Regions from separate parts of the Homo sapiens genome. Here regions 1, 2, 3, 5, 6 and 7 are each reported to be linked to region 4. Evidence: microRNA targets listed by miRTarBase, many of them from high-throughput screens and not tested one by one. Region 4 holds a microRNA gene; each other region holds the end of a gene's coding sequence.
Evidence for each region. Region 4 holds the annotated microRNA hsa-miR-215-5p (AUGACCUAUGAAUUGACAGAC, at 1,821-1,841, shown strand). A microRNA usually pairs through its seed, bases 2 to 8, with sites in the 3' UTR of a target mRNA and lowers its output. Matches are read on the target gene's strand: a 7mer-m8 pairs with bases 2 to 8, a 7mer-A1 pairs with bases 2 to 7 and ends in A, and an 8mer does both.

Region 1 (4,167 bases), not on the chromosome of region 4:
TCTTTAGTCAGCAGGTGATGGATCCTCCCAGGACTGGATCCTCCCTTTCAAAGAAGTGGGTTCTCTTCTAGCCCAGGGTATATCTAGAAATGTCATTCAGAGCTAGGGCCTAGAATAGGGGCCTCAGCCTGGTGCCCTATCCTACTGTAGCTGAGCTGGAACAAGTTCCAAGACAAAGTTTTCTTTATTCTTCCCTCTCCTCTCCTCAAGTGGAGGGAAGGAGTCTCTCTTGGAGCTGTAAGCTGTGCGGCCTGGAGTTGGGAGAGGGGTATACATTCATCTACCATGTGAGTTGGGCACTGCACACCAAGGCATTCAAACAAGAGAAATGAAACCTTATCTATATGAAGAATTGCATTCAAATGTGCTTAACAAGCAGTTTTATTCCTAACAGACAAAAATAAGAAGCAATAACATATCCATAAGCAGATGAATTCGTATACAGTGATTTCCATAGCATGTCATATTCTAAGATAAAAAGAATGAACTACTCATATATCATGATTGATGAATGTCAAAATATGCATCCCTGCTATGTGAAATAAAAATAATAATAAAGAAAAAAGAAGAACATCTAAATAAATAGGGCTCAGGAGAGTACTCAGGTATGAAAAGAGGAAACATGTTATATCAGTCATATAAAATTCCAGAAAATTGACATTAATCTACTGTTAAGCAAATATTGTAATTCAGTGATTGTCTGGAGCATGGAGAGGCCAGAGAGAAAGATAGTATTTATTTTTTAAGAGACAGGGTCTTACTATGGGACCCAGGCTAGTCTCAAACTTCTTACCTCAAGCAATACTCCCACCCTGGACTCCCAAAGTGTTGGGATAACAGGCATGAGTCACCATGCCCAGTCTTATTACAGCTTTAAAAATTTAATTTGAAAGAACTATCTGGATTTAACATTATTTTTGACAAATAGGTTATGTGATTTTACATTGACTCTCCTAACTCTCATCACGCCCTAAGGGGGGCAATTAGCCTGTGTGATACCAAATACTTATGAGCCAGGAAGATCATTTCCACCTGATTAAATTGGAATGCTGGCTGGTTGCAAAGGCCACATCACTGGACTAAGAGATTTCCTTTCTCCCTATCCTCTTCCTCCTACTAATTCAGGGATGGCTTTTTGGTATGCAGCCCAGATAGGCTACAGAAATCCACAAAACCTTTAGATTTAGTCTGACAATGACCTAAGCTACACTAGATTCATAATTATGGAGGTCCTGAAAATTTCTGTACCTGCTTGTCCATCACAGACATAGTGACTGAATCATTGTGGATGCCTTTTTAAAAAAAGTATATCCCAACTATTCTGTTGCAGTCTGCTTCACTACCTAGAAATGCTAATTCTACAAAAATTATTTTTGGGCTGGGCATGGTGGCTCACACCTGTAATCCTAGTGCTTTCAAGGGCGTATGCTAGAGGATTACTTGAGGCCAGGAGTTGAACATCAGTCAGGGTAAAATAGCAAAACCCTATCTCTATAAAAAATTCTTAAATTACCTGGGCTAATCTCAGGTACTCGGGAGGCTGAGGCAGGAGGATCACTTGAGCCCAGGAGTTTGAGGCCGCAGTGAGGTATGACCATGCCAGTGTATTCCAGCCTGAGTTTCAGAGTGACATCATTTCCCTAAAAAAATAAAAATTAAAGAATTATGATTTCTTTCTCCAGGCTTATAACGTAGGACACTATCCTACAGAATTCTGGACTTCAGGACACATGAATGCACTGTAGGACTTGAGAACAGATTTCCCTCACCAGTACTGAGCAGAATGCAATATCCATTATAAACAAGAGAATAATTTTGTGCTGTTCTCAGAAGCACCAAAGTGTGTCACTAAAACTGTCCCCTACTCAGGTTGATTTATGAAAACACATATTATTGCACTATTTCATCTAAAAATAAAGATCACAAAGCCCTGAAGTCTTTATTTGGAGGCCTTAGGCAGCCATCCAAACTAGGCCACAAATGCAGAGCTATATTCTGCCTTCATACTGTTCCCTAAGAGTCACACAGTTTAGTAACCCCAACAAACTTTCATGGTACCAGAATCCTTCATGGTACCAGAACCATGTTGTATCTAAGCCACACAATGCAGTGAGTATACAATTCACACAATACAGTCAATACAATTCCCAAGATTGAAGGAAGCTTAAATAAGGACTTCATCATAGCAGAAACCAGAACAATGAGAGGCAGCTTGTACTTGGGTTGGTGAGTTAAGAGGCTGGAAAATTCCATTTTAAGAATCATGACAATCATGAGATTCCTAGGAAAGACAGCCCATCTTGTCAAGTAATCAGAAAAATTCTCTAGGCCAAGCTGGTCCAACCCGCAGCTTGTGGGCCGCATGTATCTCAGGACAGCTTTGAATGCAGCCCAACACAAATTTGTAAACTTTCTTAAAACATTATGAGGGTTTTTGTGTGATTTTTTAAAAAAGTTCATCAGCTATCATTAGTGTTAATGTATTTCATATGCGGCACAAGACAATTCTTCTTCCAATGTGGACCAGGAAAGCCAAAAGATTGGACACTTCTGCTCTAGGCCAGAACTGAGTCAGGTCCATGGCCTAACTCTTCATAGAGAAATGAGAAAGGAACGAGTGCAGAGGCTACTCAAAAATACCACTGCTGAATGGGAGACAACTTGAACTTTTTTTCTGGAATATGATGGAGTGCATGAGTGATGCACTGTAGGTACCTGCCAAGTGGTAGAGATGAAATGGCTTTTGCCAGAGACCTAAGAATGAAATAAATCTGGCAAGGACATACGCAGGATAAGAAATGCAATACAGCTCCCATATACCTGGAATTTATGCAGCTACTGGACATATGACATTCAATATAGGTTGATGGTGTCCTCATAAGGGCTCTCTCCCACAGTTACACTGGACAAGAAGTAATATTCCCACACATCTATGTTATTTTTCTCCTGTCAACATTCTGGTATCCAGTGAAAGAAGAGTGAAGCCCTCGCAAATGCTCTGCACTCAAAAGGCACTTCCACAGCAGGAGCTTGTCTGTGCATAATATGTTAGACATTTAGATAAAGAATGTGCCATATTTGTCACACCATAAAGCCTTGATCCAGTGTGAACTCTGATTTTGAAGGAGCATAGAGGTTTGACTAATCAATTTTCCAAATTTACTTCACTGAGAAGGGCTTTCTCTAGTGTGAACTTGCAGGGCAGAGCTTCTAGTGAATGTCTTTCCATATTTGCTACACTGTTGAGGCCTTTCTCTAGCATGAACTCTCCTGTGTTTAATGAAACCAGAGTTTTCCCACAAAGGATTTTCTACTCGCTGCTCTCATAAGGCTTTGTCCAGTGTGAACTCTTACGAACATGGAGCGCAGAGCTGTACGGAAATGATTTCTCACATTTATTATGTGAGAAATTATTATGTGGCCTTTCTCCATTGTAAATTATCTGATGAATAGTAATGCAGCTCTTCTGGCTAAATAATTTTACAAATTCCTTACAGTCATATGGCCTTTCTCAACTGTGAACTCAGTAGTGTTCAGTGAGGTGGGACTTCTTGTTAGGTAATTTCCCAAATTCCCCATAACTATAGGGTCTTTCTCCAGTGTGACCCTTCTGGTATTTGGTGAGGCAAAACTTCTATGTACAGGATTTCATACATTCTCTACACTCAGAAAGCCTTTCCCCAGTGTGATCTTGCTATTGTTGAATGAGGCCAACCTTTTGGCTAGATGATTTTGCACATTCTCCATACTCATAAGTGCTTTCCAGTGTGATCTCACGAATGTTGAATGAGGGTGCTCTTTTTACCAACAGATCTGCCAAATTTTCAACATTCATGATGTCTTTCTCCCGTGTGAACTCGTTGATGTTTAATGAGGTTTCCCTTTTGACGAAAACACTTTCCACATTCTCCACACTCATGTGGCCTTTCTCCAGAGTGAATCTGCTGATGTCGAATGAGACTGCCCTTTTGATGAAAACATTTCCCACATTCTCCACACTCATGTGGCCTTTCTCCAGAGTGGATCTGCTGATGTTGAATGAGACTGCCCTTTTGATGAAAACATTTCCCACATTCTCTACACTCATATGGCCTTTCTCCAGTGTGAACTCTCTGGTGTTCAGTGAGGTGTGACTTGTACCTAAATGATTTCCTACATTCTTTACAC
Region 2 (4,000 bases), not on the chromosome of region 4:
GTGGCTGTCCCAACCATGCCTTTTGTTTGGTTAGGGTGCTCTGAACTTCCTGAATGTAGATCATTCACAGAGGCTTGCAGTTGAGCAGGCCACCTCTGAGCAGTGCCCCCAGCTCACCCTGGGGTTGGGGCTGTGACAGTGAGCAGGGGGCACCTCTCTCGATGGGCTGACTTGGCCCTTGGGACGAGGGGACCCTTAAGGCCCAGTTGTGGCTACGTGTTGGCTGTTGCATGTCTGCCCAGGACTTCAGCATTCAGGCAGTGGGTGCTGTTCCTCCACGCGTGCCCGTCTCTGCAGGAGGAGCGGACGCTGTTCCAGTTGGATGAGGCCATCGAGGCCCTGGATGCTGCCATTGAGTATAAGAATGAGGCCATCACATGCCGCCAGCGGGTGCTTCGGGCCTCAGCCTCGTTGCTGTCCCAGTGCGAGATGAACCTCATGGCCAAGCTCAGCTACCTCTCATCCTCAGAGACCAGAGCCCTCCTCTGCAAGTATTTTGACAAGGTGGGCCAGCAGCCCATGGCCCCCCAGCTCCTCCTCAGCGGCACGTGTGGGGAGGTGTCTCATGGCAGCTGCTCCAGCGGATATCCCGTTTCCTCCCAGACTGGGGGACAGAATCAGGACCAACTCATCTGCAGGGCCGCCTGACCTTAAAGCCTATTTTACTTGTGAAACTAAGACCCAGTTTCCTACCCGCCCCCCACTTCTGCTCTGATTGGCTAACCTCAGGGTGGTCCATGGCCACAATAGTAGCTCTCAGTAGGGGAAGTTTTTGCCCTTTTGTGACATTTGGCCATGGCTGGAGATACTTTTGGTTGTCACAGTGGTGGGGGTGGAGGCCAGGGATGTTACTAAACATCCTATAACACACAGGACAGGCCCCCACAACCAAGAATTATCTGGTCCCAGATGTCCATAGTGCTGAGGTTGGTCTAGATGAAATCCCACAACTTGACGCTCTGCCCAGCTCCATAGTGTGTGGCTAGGAAAGGGTTTGTGGCAGAGATAGCAGATAAGGTGAGAGCCAGCTCTGATCGTTGGAAGATAACTAGAGCACTGCTGAGGTGTCTGAGGCTGAGTCTTGGCTCAGCAGGGAAGACCCTGGTGATTTCTTAGTGCCGTGGTGGCAAGTGTGCCAATACTGTGTCTGTGATTGAGGATTAGCTGGATGAAGAGGGGTCATGATGAGGGCTGAGCCTGGCTGGGTCTTGGGACAGGTGGTGACGCTCCGAGAGGAGCAGCACCAGCAGCAGATTGCCTTCTCGGAACTGGAGATGCAGCTGGAGGAGCAGCAGAGGCTGGTGTACTGGCTGGAGGTGGCCCTGGAGCGGCAGCGCCTGGAGATGGACCGCCAGCTGACCCTGCAGCAGAAGGAGCACGAGCAGAACATGCAGCTGCTCCTGCAGCAGAGTCGAGGTGAGCAGCCCGGCCCATGGCTCACAACCCCGGCCCCCTCCATCCCCCCCACCCCCATCTTCCCCGCCCTGCACCCCCCTCCCTCCCCCCACCGCCCCTGCCACTCACAGCCCCTGCACCTACAGCCCTGGTGGCCCGGCCCACCGCTCACAACCCCGGCCCCCACCCAGCCCACAGCCCCCACCCCCACAGCCCTGGCCGCCTGCCCCGCCTGCAGCCCTCACCACCCTCTCCTCGACCTTTCCACTCTAGACCACCTCGGTGAAGGGTTAGCAGACAGCAGGAGGCAGTATGAGGCCCGGATTCAAGCTCTGGAGAAGGAACTGGGCCGTTACATGTGGATAAACCAGGAACTGAAACAGAAGCTCGGCGGTGTGAACGCTGTAGGCCACAGCAGGGGTAACTCCTCGTCGCGCTCTGAAGTCAGACCTGTTCCCTTTCTTTGGGGAAAGCTTAGAGACCACTCTCCCTCGAGCCTTTATTGGCTCAATTCACAGGTTGCTTATTGTGCTGGGGCACTGGGGAGCTAGGGCTTCGGGAAGGTGTTGCCACCTGTTTCTGATGAGGACACGTTACTCTCCATGACAGGTGGGGAGAAGAGGAGCCTGTGCTCGGAGGGCAGACAGGCTCCTGGAAATGAAGATGAGCTCCACCTGGCACCCGAGCTTCTCTGGCTGTCCCCCCTCACTGAGGGGGCCCCCCGCACCCGGGAGGAGACGCGGGACTTGGTCCACGCTCCGTTACCCTTGACCTGGAAACGCTCGAGCCTGTGTGGTGAGGAGCAGGGGTCCCCCGAGGAACTGAGGCAGCGGGAGGCGGCTGAGCCCCTGGTGGGGCGGGTGCTTCCTGTGGGTGAGGCAGGCCTGCCCTGGAACTTTGGGCCTTTGTCCAAGCCCCGGCGGGAACTGCGACGAGCCAGCCCGGGGATGATTGATGTCCGGAAAAACCCCCTGTAAGCCCTCGGGGCAGACCCTGCCTTGGAGGGAGACTCCGAGCCTGCTGAAAGGGGCAGCTGCCTGTTTTGCTTCTGTGAAGGGCAGTCCTTACCGCACACCCTAAATCCAGGCCCTCATCTGTACCCTCACTGGGATCAACAAATTTGGGCCATGGCCCAAAAGAACTGGACCCTCATTTAACAAAATAATATGCAAATTCCCACCACTTACTTCCATGAAGCTGTGGTACCCAATTGCCGCCTTGTGTCTTGCTCGAATCTCAGGACAATTCTGGTTTCAGGCGTAAATGGATGTGCTTGTAGTTCAGGGGTTTGGCCAAGAATCATCACGAAAGGGTCGGTGGTAACCAGGTTGTGGTTTAAATGGTCTTATGTATATAGGGGAAACTGGGAGACTTTAGGATCTTAAAAAACCATTTAATAAAAAAAAATCTTTGAAGGGACAAATGGGAAGTTTTCACTTAGAGTTTGATTTACAAGACAATAGGAGGAATCAGATTTGGGAACACAACAGGCTTGAACACTTTCTGGAGACTGAGAGACAGTTCAGAGTCAGCCCTCACCGTTAGCCAGACCCCTGGCCAGGACCCGCAGCAGGCTGGTCCAGCGGGTCTGTGGGGCACTCCTGTGGGGCACTCTTGGTGGAAACGATGAGCCAGGTGATGGTCTCCCCAGGAGTGGGCAATGGGTGAGGCCTGAGCCCTGAACTGGCTGGCTCTTGGACAGTCCTTGAAAATGTGGCTGCTCCAGAAGCCACTCAAGCTGGACCATGGTCACAGTTAACCTCAGGCCCAACATTAAACAAAAATGTACTGAGTGCTCAGTCACTAGAGATGATTTTACTGTTACACAGGGAAGGCAAAAAATAGCTTCCACTGCCCAATGCACTCTTCAGTTTCACGTATATGGCTTCACAGTTTACAAAGCGCTGCCTGTGTCGCAGCAGCCCAGCCTTACAGCAGCTCAAGGGACCCCAGGGAGGGCGCCTTTCTCCATTTGCATAAATGAGGCAGAGTGGCCCCCTGACTTGCCAAGGTCATGGTTGGGGTGAGGCTGGAATGGGATTCCTTGTCTGGGTTCCTGACTCCCAGGCTGCCTGAGTTATAGCACCAATCACATTGCCATCCACCTCTCCTCCTGCAACTTCCCCAACAAGGGGCAGGGCCAGGAGATGGATTGGATCCATAAGGGGAATTAGAAAACCCTAAGGCATTCTAATGGCAATCTGAACACTGACCATGGCAAAAGAGGCTTGGGACCAGGCATCCAACTTCTTTATGTCCACAGGGTCCTGGCTGACTCCTTGATCTTTTGGGCTCAGTAATGTTTGTGGCTATAAGTCCTCCAGCCAGGTTCCCATGAGCTTCTTCCGTGTATAAGTTCTGCTGATGGGGCGCCTCCTGGAGAAAGCGCGACTGAAAGGAGAGTCTTCTACAGTGGAGGGAAGAACATCCACATCCTCATCTAGAAGAAGGTAGAAAGGCTTAGCATGCAGGAGTCACAGAGGACCGAACTGAAAAAAATTGGCTTAAATTGCAGAGGGTTACACACAAAAACAGACTTTAAGAAAATCAGCACTGCTTGGAGGTTCGCTTATCCTACAGAAATGGTACCTACACTTTTTAGAAG
Region 3 (4,168 bases), not on the chromosome of region 4:
GTTTATACCAGAGAAAATTTAATATGGAGCTGTTAGGAAAGCTCCCCAAGGAGGTGAATCCATTCATCCTTAGTAGCCTGTGTAGTGCTTTCAAAGGTTCAGCCCACAAAGAGTCATCACTGAGATTAATAGGATAATGCATAGAATTCATCAGGAAGTGAACTCTGTTTTGCTACCTCGTGATCCTCAAGGGAGTACTTCAACCACACTTTGTCCAAAACTGTTATTTAATAAGTCATGTTTGCACTCAGTTACTCTGAAGTCAAATGAGTAGTTTATGTTATAAATTATTTCTGCACAACGTTCTTGTATCATATGAGGATAAGTGCTCTGTGTTATGACACAATCACACCTTCTTGTGCTTTAGAGAGACTGTATTTTTCCAAAATACATACTAATTTTATATCTGAGAGCAAAGAGCTTTCTTCTTAAGACAGGGTCTTGCTCTGTCACCCAGGCTGGTGCAGTGGCACAATCTCAGCTCACTGCAACCTCTGACCCCTGGGCTCAAGTGGTCCTCCCACCTCAGCCTTCCAAGTAGCTGGGACCACAGGCATGCGCCACCATGCCTAGCTAATTTTTTGTATTTTTAGTAGAGACAGGGTCTCACCATCTTTCCCAGGCTGGTCTCAAACTCCTGAGCTCAAGTGATCCATCCACCTTGGCCTCCCAAAGTGTTAGGACTACAGGTGTAAGCCCCTATGCCTGGCCTAAAAGCCAAGAATTCTTTAACTCAACAAAAAATAATGATTTATAAGAATTATTTTTTGGAGATGGGGGATAAACATAGTATTTTTAATTATTTGATTTAATTTGACATTTGGAAGAGAAAAATTTCAGGTCATTGATTATCAATTCTTGTGATATTATAGCTCATCAGATGTTTAGCTATCTCAAGGGACATATACAAATTCTCCAAAATATCACCAAACAAAATGAACTCTAATGGCTTCAAAAACAACAATTATAGAGCCCCTGTAGAGTGCCAGGGACTACTTTGCATATTTTGACTCATATATTTAAGGCTCTAAATATCCTTAGGAGATAAAAACTGCCATTATTCCAATTTTATAAAGGAAGACACTGAGACAGAGAATGAGGATGAGGGAATTTGGTCAACATCACACAGTTGAAAATAGAAGATCTGGAGTTTGAATCCATCAGTCAGACCTGAGAGCATATGCTTTATTGCTTTCAGTGAATTCATTGACTAGTGAAGTGTCTTCTGTATGCACGATTCTGGGCTAGTGCTGGACATGAGGAGGACATCTGGCTGGTTGCGTGCAGCACTGGATGTCCTCAGGCTGGTGCTTCATTGTCATGTGGTCCCTGACACAGTTGCCAGAATGCATGACCTCCATGGATCATCACACTACTTTGATCTCCTTCTTTTTTTTAATGTAACAGCTTTATCAAGATATAGTTAACATAACATATAATTCACTCATGTAAAGTGTACAATTTAATGGCTTTTAATATATTCACAGAGTTGTGCAACCATCACCATCATCAGTTTTAGAACATTTTCATTATCCCAAAAAAAAGAACCCCATACCCATTAGTAGTCACTCCTTATAACCCCCTCCCCCAACTACTGACAAGCACTGGTCCGCTTTATGTCTCCATAGATTTTTTTATTGTGAACATTTCATATAAATAGAATCATACAATATGTGACCTTTTCTGTCTGGCTTCTTTCATTTAGCATGATGTTTTCAAGCTTCATCCATGTTACAGCATGTGTTAGGACTTCATTTCTGCTTATTGTCGAATAACATTCTGTTGTCTGAATTTGCCACATTTTACGTATTCATTCATTACTCAATGGACATTTTTCCACTCTTTGGCTATTATAAATAACGATGCTATGAACATTTATGTGCAAGTTTTTTGTGTAGACATGTTTTAATTTCTCATAGGTATATACTTAGGAGTGAAATTGCTGTGTCATAGGGTAAGTCTACGTTAAATATTTTAAGAAATTGCCAGCCTGTTTTTCTCCTTGCTTATTGATAGTAAGAAGTCCTTCTTAGCAGTTTTTGCAAAAGTGACTTTTCTCCTCTATAGAAGCACCTTGACATTAGAAGGCAAGGATGCCAGACCTTGTCTTCAACAAATATTCAACATCTGGTGGACTATAAGTGGCCACTTTCAGTAACAGAAACCAAATGGAAAGTGTAGAATAATCTTGAGTAACTACCCCATCCTTTCTTAATATTAGGTCTTTTAAGTGACTATATGAAACAAATTTAATAAATGATGGTAACAATAGTAGCATCTGTTAAACACTGTAGATGTATCAGGAGGTCTATGAAGTATTACAAGTATCTTATCATTCAATTTTAGAATCACTAAAATATTTTAGAATCTTTACATTCTAGAGAGTAAGATTAAAGCAAAATTATAAGAATGACAGAGCCATAGTTTTATCTATTCTGATGACTAGGTAGGGGAAAAAGGTTTAGCTTGACGTAAGAAAAACTAAAACAAAAAGATGAACTCCCCTGAATGGAAGACTATTCAAAAGACACTCACTTAGCTGGGTAAAAGATAGTTTCACTGAGGCTGTTTTCAGGAAGCAGGAAGTAGAATGAGTTACTGTTATTTCTTTCCGGGTCTGTGTACTTATGATGTTATCTTACGGTTTAATTTTTCTATAGGTACACAGGATGTGTGGGTAGCCAATTAAAGTATTATAGAAGCTAGTAAATATTAACAGAAAAAAGAAATGAGGAACTGTTCTATTAAAACATTTTATTAGCTATTGTTAAAAAATTTTTCTGTTGCAAAGTGCCCATCTCTTGCCTACTATGAAAATTTGTTTGAATAGGTTTATCCACCTAAGCCTACATCAGATACCAGTGAGTAGACACAAAGTTAAACACACAAGAAACCACTCTTATGCAGTATTTTGTTGTGATGTCTTTTAAGTAAAAATTGGGAAATTTATATTTATTATAACAAATGATGGCCAAATGATGGCCACAAAAGCCATTGCTTGTAAATAATTATAATTCATACTGTAATGACATTTCCTATGAAAAGAATTACAATATATGTCATGGAATCCACCACTAGTCTTCCTCCTGGAAATAAAAATCAAACGGATCAATCTGCTTCAGTATATTAGGTAAGAAAAAATAATGGTGTCTAACTGCAGAGTGCATTGTGTTGATTTGGATTTCGCATAAAGTTGCCCATATAAAAACTTTTCTAATGTGGATTGAAATTCTGATTATACAACTATGAAAAAAATTGGAAGTATTATTATTCTCAGTGAATTCTAATTTGATTTGAAGGCCTTTGGAAGAATCCCTCTCCTACATTCTGCTTTAGTCCTTAAGATCCAGTTAGAGGCTGCTTGTAGTCATCCTCATTGCTTGAGAAGACTAGGCTTTTCTATTTAGCAACCAATCCAGGAACTAGATTTCACCACACTAACCACATCTTCCTTCTCTGTGTCATACTTGTATGTTTTTGGTCCTGAAAAGAAGTAAATGTAGCCTAAAAGAGACAAAGTTGAAATTGGGTTACTGAAGATGTCCAGCACATATATAAATGGAAGAATTTGTCACTGTCACTTTCTTAAAGTGTCACCAAAGAGGAATTGTGAATTTGTCAGGTGGCAGTTAGCTTGTCTTCTGTCTTCATGCCCTAGAACCTGACTCCTGAACTTCTCAGTCATTTCTGAGCTTTCTCCTTGTTCCAGCCGGGGTAAGGCCTTCTTGTTGGGGTCATCCAATGTGCCATGCTCAGTTATGTACTGTGCTTCTGCTCAGGCTGCTCTCCTCCAGGAAGCCACTCCCCTTTTCTTTCCCTAGTTAAGCCTCCGGCCAATCTTCAAAACCCATCTGAAGTCCTACTATAAAATTTCCAATGACTGCTGCCGATTCTGATATTTTAATTCTCAGATCAGCTCTTGCAATTATTGTGCAGTCTACCACATGACTCAACACTAAATTATAGATTGTCTGTTTTCCAGTCATTTCATCTGTGTTGGGTGAACCATTCTGTGAGAGCAGTGGCCACATCTGGAATGGTCTTTGCACTTCTGAACAGTGTCCAGCCCTGTGCTATTTTTTCAAGAAGAGTGTGCTAACTGACTACTTCAGAAGATTTAATTAAATGTATTCAACAAAGTTCTATTCAACTTTCCTAGCTATGTGTT
Region 4 (4,168 bases):
ATTAAATTACATCTTCTTTTGTATATCATTATGTTCCTTTATAAACAACTGTATTGGACATCTTATATACATATCCTCACACAAGAGGTATTAGTCCTATTTCCTTTGGGTAAATACTTAGAAGTGGAATTTTTTTATAATGAAACCAAGATAATACTTAAAAGATTTCTTAAATAATTTTCTGTTTCCTAAAAAAATTTTTAAACAATTTTCTAACTATTTCCTTGTGATATTTAATATTCTTCAGAAAAAAATGCAGGAAAATTCCTAATTTGTCTGAAATTTAAGAATTCTACCTTCATTTCTTTAACATTGTATACTTAACACAAACTCATAGTTAACCTATAACCCAAAGATCAGTATAAACGACTGCTGATAAAAGTGGGTGAAACCACTTACCAGTATGTAATCTATATGCTTCCATCTTAATGCTTTACTTCATAAAGCAATAAATCCATCATAAAACCTTGTACTTTACTCAAAGGCCTTATCTCAACACATGCATTACGTGTCCCTTCTTAGGTTTCAATCAGTGAAAATCCACTAGGTAGCATGAGCAACTATGACATCAGCCAATCATTCTGAACTTCGATATCAACCGGAATGAGGCTTATTTAGCGTGTTATGGACATTAAGCAGCATTAAGATTACTAAAGCAACAAAGAAACGACTGCTGTCATCCCACTGTCTTCTGTGTTTTGCCTTTATAAGCAAAAATATTGAAGATTATTAAGACAACTTTTCTTCTGTAACTTACTGGAAGAAGAATGAGGTAAGAGGCTAAATGTTTCACATTTGTTTACTAAATTTAATTCTAGAACAATGTGAAATTTGGAAGGGGAAATTCTATTTTTAGTTTAATCCTAGATTTATGTTTTAAAGCTGACAGAAAACCATTTTGAAGAAATTTTTCTTTATTTAATGAACATAAATTTTTTGAACAAAAGGTTTATTATTGTTAACTGAGAAAAAATTTGAGGTAGCTAAAGTTAACACTCAAATTATATTGGAAATTCCTTGGCTATTTTTACTAAATTTCTCATAATTTCCAGAAGTTAGGGGCTAAGTTTCACTATGTTAACTATAGCATTAATAGCATGAAAGTGATTATAACTGTTTGAAATGATGAAAGAAATTTAACCAACTTCTTTTCCTTCCCAGGTAGCCAGTGTTTCTACATTTTATCTTTTTTATGCTAAAAATTATTTCTTCTGTTTTTATTGACTAGTAACAGATTTCAACCCAAATTCTAATGGCATTATCTCACAGATTCAAAAAATGACCAATGACAGTAAAGTCAGAAATGGAATTATTTCTTGATAAAATACAAATATGATCTAAAATGCAAATGACACTATTAATTCAAATCAAAATAAAACATCAGCGTTTCAAATCTACCAGTCCCTAAACTTATTTAGAACATGAATAAATCGAGACTTTCTTCTGTGAAACAAGTATACTTAGAGATATCGTACAGCTCCCATGATGAGCAAAAGGAATCTCCTTATATGTTTAATGGTGTTATCAAGTGTAACAGCAACTCCATGTGGACTGTGTACCAATTTCCAGTGGAGATGCTGTTACTTTTGATGGTTACCAACTTGCTACAATATAAAGGTATAATAAAGAAAGACAGAAAATTGTGGTCACTTGGACTCTCATTTGATTCCAGCAGAAAAAAAGATTTTCAGCCTGTTTTATAAAATTAACAAATGATTAAGAATTAATATCAATTTTCTTAAATTCAAGTTTTGTAACACCAAAAAGATCCAATAATGGAAGAGGATTAAAGTCATCATTCAGAAATGGTATACAGGAAAATGACCTATGAATTGACAGACAATATAGCTGAGTTTGTCTGTCATTTCTTTAGGCCAATATTCTGTATGACTGTGCTACTTCAATATCAGAAATCGACTAACACCACGCAACCAACGCAATGGCAGGTACACAGAAGATAATCTGTAACACTACCATGTAAATGTATTGAGTAAATAAAACATAAATATACCTAATGAAAACTTGTGTTTTTCTGACAAAGCTCATATTTATTTAACCTAACTTACTGACCAGTCAACCTATGTACCATTTAATTATCAGGATGTATCAATTAAACCAGTTTGCTATATTTACTAATACATACATATGATCCACCTCAGAGTCCAGAGGGCTATTCCACCAAGGAATCCCCACCCACCTCAATCACTTCAGTGAAATTCCCTAGACATCTTGCTCTCTAAATAGTGAAAAGAAGAGTAGCCGGGCACAGTGGCTCACGCCTGTAATCCCAGCACTTTGGGAGGCTGAGGCGGGCGGATCACTTGAGGTCGGGAGTTTGAGACCAGCCTGACCAACATGGAGAAACCCCGTCTCTACTAAAAAATATATATATATAAAATTAGCCGGGCGTGGTGGCACATGCCTCTAATCCCAACTACTCAGGAGGCTGAGGCAGGAGAATCACTTGAACCTGGGAGGCGGAGATTGCAGTGAGCTGAGATCGTGCCACTACACTCCAGCCTAGGAAACAAGAGTGAAACTCCATCTCAAAAAAAAAAAAAAAAAAAAAAAAGAAGAGGAGACAATGACATGGCTTATAAAACTTTCCAAAAAAAAAAAAAACTTTCCAGTGTGAAATTTTAAACAAATGTTTGTGGAAACTCGTCTCAGGTATAATCACTTTAATTCTTTTTCTTTTAAACTAAGTCTGAGGCTGGGCATGGTAGCTCATGCCTGTAATCTCAGCACTCTGGGAGGCAGAGGTGGATGGATCCTTTGTGGCCAGGAGTTCGAGACCAGCCTCGTCAACGTGGCAAGAGCCCATCTCTACTAAAAATACAAGAATTAGCCAAGTCAGTGGCGCGTGCCTGTAGTCCCAGCTACTCAGGAGGCTGAGGAGGGAGAATCACTTGAACCTGGGAGGTGGAGGTTGTAGTGAGCCAAGATCACATCACTGCACTCCAGCCTGGGTGACAGAGTGAGACTGTATCAAAAATAAAATAAAATAATCTGAACTGGACAGAATTTACATTAATTCTTAATGTAAGTATTAAGATATTAGTAGTTTACATCTGACCAAGCTCTGTAAGAACACCACAGCAACAATATTTAGATTATTCCTAAAGTCTTACCTCAGATCCAACTTATAATAATATTGAAATAGCTTTCCAATGACTTTCCAGTCTCTAGCCTCTACTTTCTTTTCCTAAAACATACTCTTACTCCTCAAGTCTACTTAAAAGTTTAAACTTCTTAATAGCATAATTTAGAAAAAATTCCATTCACCAAATTAAAAAAAATTGCTCAAAGAAAATGAAAATCTGGAATGTGTTCCTAAAAGGAAGAATTAACATTCCCCTCTCCACATCTGTGAAAAACAGCAACAACACTCAAAGCCTCCCTAATATTACTAGAAGATAAACTAGCTAGACTATTATCTCATTAAAAACAGGGGCCATGTCAGTCTTGTTCACTGTAGCAACTAGCAGTTCCTAGCACTGACACGTACTAAGTGCTTGACAATGTGTTCTGTTTTGTTTCGTTCTGAAGAGACAGTGTCTTGCTCTGTCATCCAGGCTGGAGTGCATTGGCATGATCATAGCTCACTATAACCTCAAACTCCTGGACTTGAGCGATCCTCTCGCCTTAGCCTCCCAAGTCGCTGGGACTACAGGCCCACACTACCACACCAGCTAATTTTTAAATTTTTCTGTAGAGATGGGGTCTCACTGTAATCTTGAACAGCTGGCTTCAAGCAATCCTGCCGCCTTGGCCTCCCAAAGTGCTGGGATTACAGGCATGAGCCACTGTGCCCACATAACAATGTTTCTTAAGTGAATACATGAATAGCTCATCATCTATGGAATACTGTGCTTTACACCAAGTAGTTTGCATTTATTATTTAGTATTCATAACAGTCTACCTGCAACCATTGCTTTTCCTATTTTATAGAGGAGCCAGAGGCTAAGTAAATTCCTCAGTCTCACACACAGTGAATGGCAAAGCCTGGGTTCAAATTCAGTTGCCATTCTCCAAAGCTCACAGATTTCCAAGCAACTTCTCTTTCGAAAAGCACAAAAGGGAGCTGTTCGGGATAAAAGAATTATTCTAAGACACAATTATGATAGTGGCTGTAAAACTTAACAAATTTACTATAAATCACTTATAA
Region 5 (4,168 bases), not on the chromosome of region 4:
CTTTGGAGCCGAGGTGGTGGCCAAGTTCCTCCACAAGCACGACTTGGACCTCATCTGCCGAGCACACCAGGTGGGCTGGTGGCTCCGGCCTGCGGCAGGGGAAGGGGAGGGCCGTGCCTGCGCTCGGGACTGACTGCTCCCATCCTCGCCCAGGTGGTAGAAGACGGCTACGAGTTCTTTGCCAAGCGGCAGCTGGTGACACTTTTCTCAGCTCCCAACTACTGTGGCGAGTTTGACAATGCTGGCGCCATGATGAGTGTGGACGAGACCCTCATGTGCTCTTTCCAGGTGAGTGTGGGGAAGAAAGGAGCCGCTAGGCCCTGTGGCTCAGCCCCATGAGCCTGACCAACACTGTCTCTTTTAGATCCTCAAGCCCGCCGACAAGAACAAGGGGAAGTACGGGCAGTTCAGTGGCCTGAACCCTGGAGGCCGACCCATCACCCCACCCCGCAATTCCGCCAAAGCCAAGAAATAGCCCCCGCACACCACCCTGTGCCCCAGATGATGGATTGATTGTACAGAAATCATGCTGCCATGCTGGGGGGGGGTCACCCCGACCCCTCAGGCCCACCTGTCACGGGGAACATGGAGCCTTGGTGTATTTTTCTTTTCTTTTTTTAATGAATCAATAGCAGCGTCCAGTCCCCCAGGGCTGCTTCCTGCCTGCACCTGCGGTGACTGTGAGCAGGATCCTGGGGCCGAGGCTGCAGCTCAGGGCAACGGCAGGCCAGGTCGTGGGTCTCCAGCCGTGCTTGGCCTCAGGGCTGGCAGCCGGATCCTGGGGCAACCCATCTGGTCTCTTGAATAAAGGTCAAAGCTGGATTCTCGCCATGGCCTCCGTCTCACATCTAAGACACTGCCTGGCAGCTCTTCTGCACAGAGCCGCTTGGGAGTCTCGGCACCGGGCCCCAGCCAGGGCAACCCTAGCCACACACTCGGGTCCAAGGCTCTTAGAATTCCAAGTCAGCGCCAAAGAGTATCAGGAAAGCAAGGAAAACTTGTCAGCTCCACGGGGGTCCCAGATGCATGCCCAGGACTTCAGGAAGGAACAGGTCATGATTGGCAGAGAAGCTGGATCACCAGGGGCCAGCAGCACCTACTATGACATTTTCCTTAGGAAGGTGAGCCTGAGGGAGACAGGTTTCCAGCCTTGGCCAGCTGGAGTATAGCCTGAGGCTCAATGAGAAATAAGAGGTAGGAACGTCAGTAGTTCAGGGCCAAGTCTGGAAAGTCCTGATTGGCTGGGGGTTGTGGGGAGATAACGGCCCAGGCCCGACCGCTGTGGGACAGCTTTACAGTGACAGCCAGCTGGGGCCTGCGAGAGGCAGTGAAACAGCTCAGCTCCAGCAAGCCCACCTTTCTGATCCCCAGGGCTGAGAGACCCAGTTCTGCCACTGGCTGGGGCTTCGTCTAGTCCAAGGCCTCTGGGTACAGGCTTCAGGTTCTTGGTTCAGCCTTCACCCTCACTGTCTTCCGCCAGCACAGGGCTGGGGCCCTGGGGGGAGCGTACAGGGGCCAGGATGGAGCCGAAGAACAGTGAGCGGAACTGGAAAGAGAACAAGTGAGTTCTGGAGGCTGCTCCCTTCCCTACCTCCCACCCCTGCCTCCACCTCCAGTCCCTACCTTCTTGGGTGGGGGAGTCCCAGGCACTGTACTGGGCTCAGCCTCATCTTCCTCCTCGGAGTGGGGACCGGGGCTCTTGGGGGGCTGGGGGCCAGGTGAAAGGGAAATGGAGGGCAGCACCCGCGAGCCCTCATTGCCTATAGTGGTTTCCATGGCGATCATGTAAGAGTCAATGTCGTCATTGGCAAAGTCGTCCGGGTGGGGTGTGCTGTAGGCAGAATCGGAGTATCAGGGAGGGGACTGGGGGAGCAGAGGCAGGGCCCCACCTTGGAGGGCTCGAAGGGAGCTCTGGGGCCCCCGACCACTGGAGATCTCTTGGTTTTATGACTTCCTGATTTGGCTGGAGAGGAGAGGATGCAGGGGTTAAGTGGTGACTTCCTGGAGGGGGTGGGCCAGGAATCTCTTTGATCAGAATTCAGGTAGGGGCCTGAGGGAGGCATCCCGGGGGCTACCTTAGCTCAGCTAGGAGGGAGGAGCAGCAAGTCTTATGAACTGGGCCACATGGAGCCCAAGCCCCCACCTTCCCAGGGGACAGGAGCTGGAAAGCACAGGAGCCCAGGGACAGGCTGGGCTGGGGGCCAGCCCCAACTTCCTGTGCTGAAAGTGCACTGGGCCATCCTCCCCAGCCCACCTGCCCTTCCAGCCACCTGCTTCCCCCAGCCCAGGCAGCTCCTGCCTCCCAGCAGCCCTTTCCCTCCTTGGCCTGGGAGGAGGCTCAGAGGGGCGGCCTCAGCCAGAGAAGGAAGCTGGCAGGGCCTTGGGGATGCTTCCCTGGGTGGGAGGGGTCTCTGAGTACAGCTAACCGAGAAGGCTGAGTCTGCAGGGCTGGCAGCTGTGAGCACTATAGGGTTAGGGGCTGGGGCCTGATAGAAAGAGAAGGGGCGGGAGAGAACACATTGCGGGGAGGTGCAGAAGCTAGGAGTTGCAGTCTCAGGCTGGAGTGCACAGACATGGAGAGAGGAGGAGTTGGGGGGAGGTGCCCTCACCTGTGAGCCTGGAGCTGAGGCACTGGCTGGTGACGCTCTGGGGAGCCCAGGTCCTGGGAGTGCGAGTCGGTGTCTGAGAGTGTGGCCAAGACAAAGTGGCCGTCCAGCAAAGAGTCCTTGATGGTGAAGATGGCGGGCCTGGGCAGGGGAGGGGGCCCAAGCTAGGTCATCCCATTCAGCTCCTGCCATCCCAGAGCCCTTCCCTGTCCCAAGGCTGGGAACTACCTGCCTGGAGCATCAAAATGAATGCTAAGATTCAAGTTTGCTGACTCTGCAAAGCTCAGGAGCCCCTGGGAGGAAAGAGGTAGCAGGTGAGGCCCCGGGCTGGGCTGAGCTGGGCAGGGAGGACAGGACGGCGAGCGCCTGGGAGGAACCTCACCCGGAATTCCTTGAGGCAGAAAGTGATGGCCACCCCTTCCTGGGCCTGCAGCTGCTGGAAATCCTCCTCTCCAAGGCACATCTCAGTCACCATGGCTTTGGCAGTGCTGTCTGTTGGGGAAGAACAGGAGTAACCTGGGCCCCGCCCCTCTCCCACCTGCCACTCTGCTGTCCCAGGCCACGTCCAGCCCCCTCACCTGCCTCCTCCTCGTGGTAGCTGCGCAGGATGACCCTGCGGCCACGGCCAATGCCCAGCGTCACTTCAGCCAGTGCAGGAGAGAAGGGCAGAACAGCCTCCCCCAGAACCCTGTGAACAGGGTGGAGCATTACCCGAAATGCCTGGCCCTGCCCAGGGCTTTGCTCTCGGAGGACCTGAGGTGGGGGTGACACATGCACACGCACGGATGTGCGCAGGCCTAGCGCACCGTGGATGAGGCCCAGAGAAGGTGGCAGGGAGGGGACTGGTTGCAGTGGTTGCTCAAACCTGGCAGGCGGCACCTGACCATGCAGACCAGGGAGAGGGCCCAGAGGCAGGACGTGGCACTCAGGCCACCCTACAAACCCGGCCTTCAGAAAGAGCCCTGAAATCCTTATCCTCTAAGGATACCCATTGACATACAGATGAAATCACATCTGGAAATTGTTTCAAGTCAAGTGGGGACGGGAGCTGCGTCTGCTTTTACATATATTTGAAATTATTCATGAGACAGAGTGCTTGCTTCGGCAGCACATACACTAAAACTGAAGCATGCAAAAGATGAGCAAGGCCCCTGCGCAAGGATTTAAAAAAAAACAGTGGCTCATGCCTGTAATCCCAGCACTTTGGGAGGCCGAAGCAGTGGATCACTTGAGTTCAGGAGTTCGAGACCAGCTTGGCCAACATGGTGAAACCTCGTCTCTACTAAACATATATAAATTAGCCGGGCGTGGTGGTGCATGCCTGTAATCCCAGCTACTCGGGAGGCTGAGGCAGGAGAATCGCTTGAACCCGGGAGGCAGAGATTGCAGTGAGCCAAGATTGCACCACTGCACTCCAGCCTGGGTGACAGAGCGAGACTCTATCTCAAAACAAAACGAGAGAAACAATTGCTCATTTTTAAAAAAAGAGACTGAGTGTGGTGGCTGACGCCTGTAATCCCAGTACTTTGGGAGGCTGAGACGGGCAGATCACCTGAGGTCGG
Region 6 (4,168 bases), not on the chromosome of region 4:
CCACCATCACCACTCGGCTGAGGGGTGGGTCGGAGGCAAAGCCAAGGATCCAGGGCGCAAAGCCTCGGGCAGCTCTAGTGGACGTATAAAACCCAGACTCAACAAAATCCGATTCAGAACCCAGATCGTCCACACCACACCCTCTTTCAGGGACCCAGAGCAGCCGCTGGAGGGCAGGGGGGAGGAGGGAGTGGGGGAGGAACGACCTGTTAAAGGCCACTCGCCCTTCACATTGAGACCAAAGTCCAATGTATTTGGGTAAAAATTGCTTCTTTTAGAAAATGCAAAGGTTTATTTGTCTTAATAAATTGAATACTAGGTGTTGTAAGGAAGTGAGACCAGAAGGACAAGCTAAATTATGCATTCTTACTTGAGGGATCGGAATGGATGGGGCGGAGTTCTCTTCAGGCTAGCCTTCTGGGAAAAGTGGATGTCTTTTTCAGAGATTCATCATACCTTGACCTGTACCTCTTCTCTGCCCTCCACTTCCCTGCCCTGGAGTCCGTTTCTGGAGACTAGAAATGTATCTAAATTGGGGGAACAGAATGAATGAATTAATGAATGAGAGTTCCTTTGCTTTAACCATTCCTGGATGCCTGCAAAGTAAGGAATAATGCAGTTTTTATGTATCTGATTTTATAAGGGGTTACTCTTTCAAGAGTAACAAAAAAATGCAAACTGTAATGAAACTACATTGTATTTCTAAGTGTGAAAACGACAGGCTGCCCCGTTTTTACTAATTGCATTTGCATTTTAAGGTACTACTGAAGGTCAGATCAAAGTTGAAATGCAAAAATACTAATTAGAGAATAATGTGAATAAAATGGGAATCTTCTTGGTATTTTATGTGTATTGTAAGTAGCAGTTAAATTATTTTTTTAAAAGCAATTTCAGTTTTAATCACTGAACAAAAGAAACAGGCAACATTCACTTCTGTAGTATGGTTTCCACCTATCTCTAACACCACTATTAAGGTACACCAGTGTTAAGGTACATTAATAACTACACAAAATTTTATTTAAAGAGAACACTTAGCAGCCTATGATAGTTTTCAATAAAATGTTGCCTCTCTTTCGGATTCTCACTAACTTTTGTTACTATTCTAAAAGTTTGAATTTGCTGGGGTGTTTATTCTGAGGATTATTTAACCATTGTTCTATTTGGCATAACCCTATTTAATGGTGCTTAGAGCTGAATTACCTACAGAAACTGTTTCTGGTTTAAATAATTAGCACAAATTGGCCTAAGTATTCATGAGCCCATGTTTCTGTGAAGTAATTATTAAACCAACTTAATGATTCTTATGTAAGGTACACTTTTTATTTTAATACATTGGTAGTCTCTATGACTTGTAGCAATGTTTTACAAATGTTTAAAATGCTAAACTTAATTTTCCAAGCTTTTCTTGACAATTAGATACCTATCCTGTAGTTACTGAAAATCTGGGTAGTAAATCTACCCAATTAAAATGGCACTTTATAAAAGGGAATAGAGAAGAGATGGGACTATTTCTATATTTAAATGCTGCTGGCTATTCCTTTGTATATAAATGAAAAATACCATTCATTAAAATTAAGTACTCGTTTAAGTATGGTTCTTAATTACATTTCATTCATTTATATTAGAGTAAATGGCTTCATAACTACTTTAAAATTTAACCCACAAGCATATTAAATCTGTTTGTTATAAGATTGGAAACAATTTTTGAGAGGGACTAATTTAAACAAGTCCTCCTTTAGTCTTTTGGGTCGCGTAGTTGCTGAAACCTAAGTACCTGCAGCCTACAGGATAAGGAAGTTCACAGCCTGCGGGGTGAATGAACCCATGTGTGAACTGCACAGAGCAATTCATAGAAAATGCATAGAAATTTGTAACACTTTGGTCACATCTGTCTCTAGATGGTCATTGAATTTGTTTAAAGATGGATGAAAGGCCAGGCATGGTGGCTCATGCCTGTAATCCCAGCACTTTGGGAGGCCGAGGCAGGTGGATCACTTGAGGCCAGGAGTTTGAAACCAGCCTGGCCAACATGGTGAAAACCTGTCTCTACTAAAAATACAAAAATTAGCCGAGCGTGGTGGTGCGTGCCTGTAGTCCCAGCTACTTAGGAGGCTGAGGCATGAGAATCACTTAAACCTGAGAGGTGGAGGTTGCAGTTGAGCCAAGATCACGACACTGCACTCCAGCCTGGGCAACGGAGACTCTGTCTCAAAAAAAAAAAAAAAAAAGATGAATGAAAATATGAAATATATAAACTAGTATCCATTTATTTGCATTTATTGTGGGATTTCAGATATGAACGGTGTAAATTTGAGAAGCACTTATGCATACATGTGGGTGAAAAACCAATCTAATTTTGTATAAATAAAAACAGGCTCCTGGAAGGTGAAAAGTAGTCATTTGTTCTAAATCTATACATATTACTTGTATCTAGTGCAGAATAAGCTATAACATCCCATTGAGGAATCTTAAATTTCATAGACATGTAAAGCTGAAGTAACTCTAAAGAGCAGATGCTTCAGAACCATCAGAAGGTTCTGGTCAACAGTCAGTATTATCTCTTAAATGTATATGTTGGTCACTAATTGCACAAAATCTATAATTTGCCAGGGCTTTAGAGATTGAGTCAATATGTCATTTACCATGGTTTTCCCACTGAAGGCTTTAACTTTTCTGATAAAATAATATTTTAAATTTTCAAAAACCCATTCCTGAGGAGAACTACTTCTAGCATTCCTTTTCATGATGTGCTTTTGTGCAGTAAGTAGCATTTTCGGCTACTTAACTTTACATTCCTCTTATTTTTCAGTTTCCAGTCAAGATTATAAAAAGCAAATGATTGATATAATTTGATATTCATAGAGTTGTGCCTACCTTTAATGGAAAAATACATGTCAGATACTTAGATGTTTATTGATATGAGACTATGTGGTTAAAAAACCCAAGTATGTCCATGTGTTTCTTATAAGGTACACTTGAAACTAGTGAGTGTTTGTCACATTTCACTTTCATGGTATATAAAATGCAGTTTGCATATATAACTTGAATATCTGGTACTAGTTTTTTCACGCCTGCAATCTTGGAGTCTAGGTTGCCTTGTCTCTCCTATTTTTAAATAAGTGAAATTTGGGAGATTGTAAAATCTGTAAAGTTTGTTTTGTGAAAATAAAATGTTCACAGTAGAATTTTTCTCTGAATTGTCTAAGTTTCTGTCGTCCTTTAGACTTTTTACATATACTGTGTTTTACAGTTCACAAAATGCTTTTTGAAGTTTCAGTTTATTTGACCCTTTTCCTATCCCTTAAGATTATGGGCCATATATTGTTGACTTACAGATAAGAAAATAGAGGTTAATGGTTGTTCAGGGTCACACAGTAAAAAGCTGTTAGTAAGATTATAAGAGTCAGGGCTTTCCCACAACGTTATCTTTTCTGCACATTGAATTGCCACATTTTTAGCAAAACTGCTGTAGTTTGGCACCAGTGATGGAGGAATCAACTTGGAGAGAAGGTAATACCTCCACCACTACCTAAAAAAAAGCTGTATGGGTTTTGCACACACCATCTGCCATAAACCTGCCCTACCCAGGGCTGACTTCAAGACAGGTGTAGGAATACCGTTTTTCATTTTTCAGCCTCTGTGAAGCATTGAGAGTTAATTACCTCATCAAGGCTTCCTGTGATCTGTATTTTTAGCAAAATTCAACTCTGTTGAATGGCAAAGGGATGTGGTACTCCTTTGGTGTAATCGCCCACTATTGCTCTATCCGGGAGATCCCACTGTGATGGCTGCTGGGGTTATTCTTGTTTTATGATAACCCATAAAATATTTTTCAGGATCACTGAAAGACTAGATAAGTAGTTTGTTTTTCTAGAATAACTTCTTTCCTTAGAAGTACATGTCTTAAAAGGATTTATTAACCAGTTCACTTAAAGATATTTTTGAAATTTTCCTAGTAAAAATTATTTTTATTTTGCTAAGTAAATAGCATTATTTGGAGTTTCTTACATGATTAATTCCAGGATTAAATACTTGGAATTTGCTGTAAACCAGTATTCCTTCAATGATCACCCAAGTCTTCATAAATCACTGAATATTAGAGGGTTGGAAGATGACTCTACAGAAACTTGTTTCTCAAGATACAGAAGTCATGTGGTTCACATAACTA
Region 7 (4,155 bases), not on the chromosome of region 4:
ATCAAAGACTCTAATTTATCAAATGGCACCTGCTGTTTCTAAAACAGAGGATGTTTGGGTGAGAATTGAGGACTGTCCCATTAACAATCCTAGATCTGGAAGATCTCCCACAGGTAATACTCCCCCGGTGATTGACAGTGTTTCAGAAAAGGCAAATCCAAACATTAAAGATTCAAAAGATAATCAGGCAAAACAAAATGTGGGTAATGGCAGTGTTCCCATGCGTACCGTGGGTTTGGAAAATCGCCTGAACTCCTTTATTCAGGTGGATGCCCCTGACCAAAAAGGAACTGAGATAAAACCAGGACAAAATAATCCTGTCCCTGTATCAGAGACTAATGAAAGTTCTATAGTGGAACGTACCCCATTCAGTTCTAGCAGCTCAAGCAAACACAGTTCACCTAGTGGGACTGTTGCTGCCAGAGTGACTCCTTTTAATTACAACCCAAGCCCTAGGAAAAGCAGCGCAGATAGCACTTCAGCTCGGCCATCTCAGATCCCAACTCCAGTGAATAACAACACAAAGAAGCGAGATTCCAAAACTGACAGCACAGAATCCAGTGGAACCCAAAGTCCTAAGCGCCATTCTGGGTCTTACCTTGTGACATCTGTTTAAAAGAGAGGAAGAATGAAACTAAGAAAATTCTATGTTAATTACAACTGCTATATAGACATTTTGTTTCAAATGAAACTTTAAAAGACTGAAAAATTTTGTAAATAGGTTTGATTCTTGTTAGAGGGTTTTTGTTCTGGAAGCCATATTTGATAGTATACTTTGTCTTCACTGGTCTTATTTTGGGAGGCACTCTTGATGGTTAGGAAAAAAATAGTAAAGCCAAGTATGTTTGTACAGTATGTTTTACATGTATTTAAAGTAGCATCCCATCCCAACTTCCTTTAATTATTGCTTGTCTTAAAATAATGAACACTACAGATAGAAAATATGATATATTGCTGTTATCAATCATTTCTAGATTATAAACTGACTAAACTTACATCAGGGAAAAATTGGTATTTATGCAAAAAAAAATGTTTTTGTCCTTGTGAGTCCATCTAACATCATAATTAATCATGTGGCTGTGAAATTCACAGTAATATGGTTCCCGATGAACAAGTTTACCCAGCCTGCTTTGCTTTACTGCATGAATGAAACTGATGGTTCAATTTCAGAAGTAATGATTAACAGTTATGTGGTCACATGATGTGCATAGAGATAGCTACAGTGTAATAATTTACACTATTTTGTGCTCCAAACAAAACAAAAATCTGTGTAACTGTAAAACATTGAATGAAACTATTTTACCTGAACTAGATTTTATCTGAAAGTAGGTAGAATTTTTGCTATGCTGTAATTTGTTGTATATTCTGGTATTTGAGGTGAGATGGCTGCTCTTTTATTAATGAGACATGAATTGTGTCTCAACAGAAACTAAATGAACATTTCAGAATAAATTATTGCTGTATGTAAACTGTTACTGAAATTGGTATTTGTTTGAAGGGTCTTGTTTCACATTTGTATTAATAATTGTTTAAAATGCCTCTTTTAAAAGCTTATATAAATTTTTTTCTTCAGCTTCTATGCATTAAGAGTAAAATTCCTCTTACTGTAATAAAAACAATTGAAGAAGACTGTTGCCACTTAACCATTCCATGCGTTGGCACTTATCTATTCCTGAAATTTCTTTTATGTGATTAGCTCATCTTGATTTTTAATATTTTTCCACTTAAACTTTTTTTTCTTACTCCACTGGAGCTCAGTAAAAGTAAATTCATGTAATAGCAATGCAAGCAGCCTAGCACAGACTAAGCATTGAGCATAATAGGCCCACATAATTTCCTCTTTCTTAATATTATAGAATTCTGTACTTGAAATTGATTCTTAGACATTGCAGTCTCTTCGAGGCTTTACAGTGTAAACTGTCTTGCCCCTTCATCTTCTTGTTGCAACTGGGTCTGACATGAACACTTTTTATCACCCTGTATGTTAGGGCAAGATCTCAGCAGTGAAGTATAATCAGCACTTTGCCATGCTCAGAAAATTCAAATCACATGGAACTTTAGAGGTAGATTTAATACGATTAAGATATTCAGAAGTATATTTTAGAATCCCTGCCTGTTAAGGAAACTTTATTTGTGGTAGGTACAGTTCTGGGGTACATGTTAAGTGTCCCCTTATACAGTGGAGGGAAGTCTTCCTTCCTGAAGGAAAATAAACTGACACTTATTAACTAAGATAATTTACTTAATATATCTTCCCTGATTTGTTTTAAAAGATCAGAGGGTGACTGATGATACATGCATACATATTTGTTGAATAAATGAAAATTTATTTTTAGTGATAAGATTCATACACTCTGTATTTGGGGAGGGAAAACCTTTTTAAGCATGGTGGGGCACTCAGATAGGAGTGAATACACCTACCTGGTGCCTTGAAAATCACATCAAGTAGTTAATTATCTACCCCTTACCTGTGTTTATAACTTCCAGGTAATGAGAATGATTTTTTTTAAAGCTAAAATGCCAGTAAATAAAAGTGCTATGACTTGAGCTAAGATATTTGACTCCAATGCCTGTACTGTGTCTACTGCACCACTTTGTAAACACTTCAATTTACTATCTTTGAAATGATTGACCTTTAAATTTTTGCCAAATGTTATCTGAAATTGTCTATGAATACCATCTACTTCTGTTGTTTTCCCAGGCTTCCATAAACAATGGAGATACATGCATATAGGTCATACTGGTTTCCTTTCATTTTTTGATTTTCTATTTCTAATTTTCTGAATTACTGCATGCCAGTTGTTGCAAACCACTTCAAGTACTTCTATGGAAAGAGATGGATGTTAGTCAATTAGATAAACTTGCCTTTTAATTCAAATAAGGAAGAAAATATAAATGCTGAAAATGAACATTCCACATGCCAGAAAAGTGGAATTTTTGTAGGCAACACTTGAGTGGGGGGAGACGGGCCAGTCTATACTACCCATTGAAGTAAAGACTGCTGGATGAGGCCCTCTGTTAGAGATAGTGGTTCTGAATTAGTAAAGGGGCAAATCTCAATTCTAATTATAGATGTTCACAGGGTGCTGCTATAATCGATAGCAGGCCAAATATTCCCAGTTTATGCTTGTTAACAAATGGCATACTAAGCCCAGCGTTGGGAATTAGTCAGGAGTTACGATGCCTGTTTAGAGAGGAGTGGGGGAGGGAGAGTTACCTAACGTAAGGCACTTCAAAGGAGTGCGTTGGGATCACCAGGAGTGCTTAACAAGACATAGCTGGGCCATACCCCCAGTTTGATTCAGGATGTTTGGAATGGGGCCTAAGAACTTGCATATCTAACAAGTTCAAAGGTGAGGCTAATGCTGCTGGTCTGGAGACCACACTTTTTGAGAATTACTGCCCTAAGATCACAGTGAAGCTCCTTGAGTGGTTGCCTTCAGCTCTAGCGATTCCTCCCAACAACTGGACCCTTAATCTGACAAAGTATAGCAACAGATAAAAGACTTCCCCTAGGCATAAAAGATTTCAATATTAAGCCATCCAATTTCATAATGCTCATCTCAACTCCTGACAGCAGACAAACTTAGCCAGACATGAACAAACAAGTAATTCTAAAGACAGTGATTATATTTGAAGGATCAGTTAATGTTCCCTTTGAGACTGTCATTATAAAAAGCAGTAACTTCAGCAAAGATCTAATTTGAATTTTCAATAAGATTAAAAGACTATGAAAAGGGAACTTTGAGATGAGAGAAGGTTGATTTCAGATGAAAATATCCAGTTTTTTAATATACAGTGGAAGTGATCAATAATTAGCAAATAAGATATTTGAGGACAACTTTACAGATTACCAGGGTAATGAAAAGGAAGTAATCAAAGATAAGCCCCATAAGGATCAAATAGCACTGTAAGTACAGTAAAATGTTTCTTGATTAAAATATGGATCATGTTGCCACAGGTTAATTACATGAAAGAATGAATCTCTTGCAGAGGATGGGAGCCAGTTGCACAATATCTGAATATATGTTATCCCAGGGTTTCTTGGAATCTAAGGAAAAAAGCAGAGCACCAGAAATGCAAAAAGTAAATTGCCCATAGTTAAAGGAACATCTGAGTAGTCAGATCATTAAAATTTATGAAACAATTATTTTT

Region 1: the mRNA of ZNF776 is a reported target of hsa-miR-215-5p. Seed matches in the 3' UTR shown: 7mer-m8 at 1,196-1,202.
Region 2: miRTarBase lists TICRR as a target of hsa-miR-215-5p. The part of its 3' UTR that is shown has no 7-base or 8-base seed match.
Region 3: the mRNA of MMP20 is a reported target of hsa-miR-215-5p. The part of its 3' UTR that is shown has no 7-base or 8-base seed match.
Region 5: the mRNA of PPP1CA is a reported target of hsa-miR-215-5p. Seed matches in the 3' UTR shown: 7mer-A1 at 809-815.
Region 6: the mRNA of SOWAHC is a reported target of hsa-miR-215-5p. The part of its 3' UTR that is shown has no 7-base or 8-base seed match.
Region 7: the mRNA of APC is a reported target of hsa-miR-215-5p. The part of its 3' UTR that is shown has no 7-base or 8-base seed match.

The regions. Positions count from the first base shown.
Region 1 is chr19:57,754,345-57,758,511 of GRCh38, reverse strand. It overlaps ZNF776 (zinc finger protein 776), which reads right to left. Exons shown (of 3, transcript NM_173632.4): 3 at 364-4,167. The coding sequence ends at 3,825. Among named protein-coding and RNA genes, the nearest start is that of ZNF776, 9.6 kb to the right of the region's middle.
Region 2 is chr15:89,626,791-89,630,790 of GRCh38, reverse strand. TICRR (TOPBP1 interacting checkpoint and replication regulator) reads right to left here. Exons shown (of 22, transcript NM_152259.4): 22 at 2,768-3,835. The coding sequence ends at 3,705. It overlaps KIF7 (kinesin family member 7), which reads left to right. Exons shown (of 19, transcript NM_198525.3): 16 at 298-504; 17 at 1,218-1,416; 18 at 1,669-1,815; 19 at 2,005-2,814. The coding sequence ends at 2,372. Among named protein-coding and RNA genes, the nearest start is that of KIF7, 27 kb to the left of the region's middle. RefSeq lists an enhancer at 828-2,027.
Region 3 is chr11:102,573,923-102,578,090 of GRCh38, forward strand. MMP20 (matrix metallopeptidase 20) reads right to left here. Exons shown (of 10, transcript NM_004771.4): 10 at 2,910-3,504. The coding sequence ends at 3,404. Among named protein-coding and RNA genes, the nearest start is that of MMP7, 45 kb to the left of the region's middle.
Region 4 is chr1:220,115,589-220,119,756 of GRCh38, reverse strand. MIR215 (microRNA 215) reads left to right here and starts at 1,795; the gene lies at 1,795-1,904. The region is part of intron 12 of IARS2 (isoleucyl-tRNA synthetase 2, mitochondrial); the gene reads right to left. It overlaps MIR194-1 (microRNA 194-1), which reads left to right and starts at 1,516; the gene lies at 1,516-1,600. LOC124904515 (a long non-coding RNA gene) reads left to right here and starts at 644. Exons shown (of 2, transcript XR_007066883.1): 1 at 644-772; 2 at 1,874-2,015.
Region 5 is chr11:67,394,842-67,399,009 of GRCh38, reverse strand. It overlaps PPP1CA (protein phosphatase 1 catalytic subunit alpha), which reads left to right. Exons shown (of 7, transcript NM_002708.4): 5 at 1-70; 6 at 154-288; 7 at 365-827. The coding sequence ends at 475. RAD9A (RAD9 checkpoint clamp component A) reads right to left here. Exons shown (of 11, transcript NM_004584.3): 6 at 3,185-3,294; 7 at 2,989-3,098; 8 at 2,835-2,899; 9 at 2,610-2,747; 10 at 1,624-1,831; 11 at 600-1,546. The coding sequence ends at 1,451. It also overlaps the pseudogene RNU6-1238P. Among named protein-coding and RNA genes, the nearest start is that of PPP1CA, 4.9 kb to the left of the region's middle. RefSeq lists enhancers at 341-921, 922-1,503.
Region 6 is chr2:109,615,806-109,619,973 of GRCh38, forward strand. It overlaps SOWAHC (sosondowah ankyrin repeat domain family member C), which reads left to right. Exons shown (of 1, transcript NM_023016.4): 1 at 1-3,185. The coding sequence ends at 262. It also overlaps a transcript of RANBP2 not described here. Among named protein-coding and RNA genes, the nearest start is that of SOWAHC, 3.5 kb to the left of the region's middle.
Region 7 is chr5:112,843,511-112,847,665 of GRCh38, forward strand. APC (APC regulator of Wnt signaling pathway) reads left to right here. Exons shown (of 16, transcript NM_000038.6): 16 at 1-2,729. The coding sequence ends at 616. Among named protein-coding and RNA genes, the nearest start is that of SRP19, 16 kb to the right of the region's middle.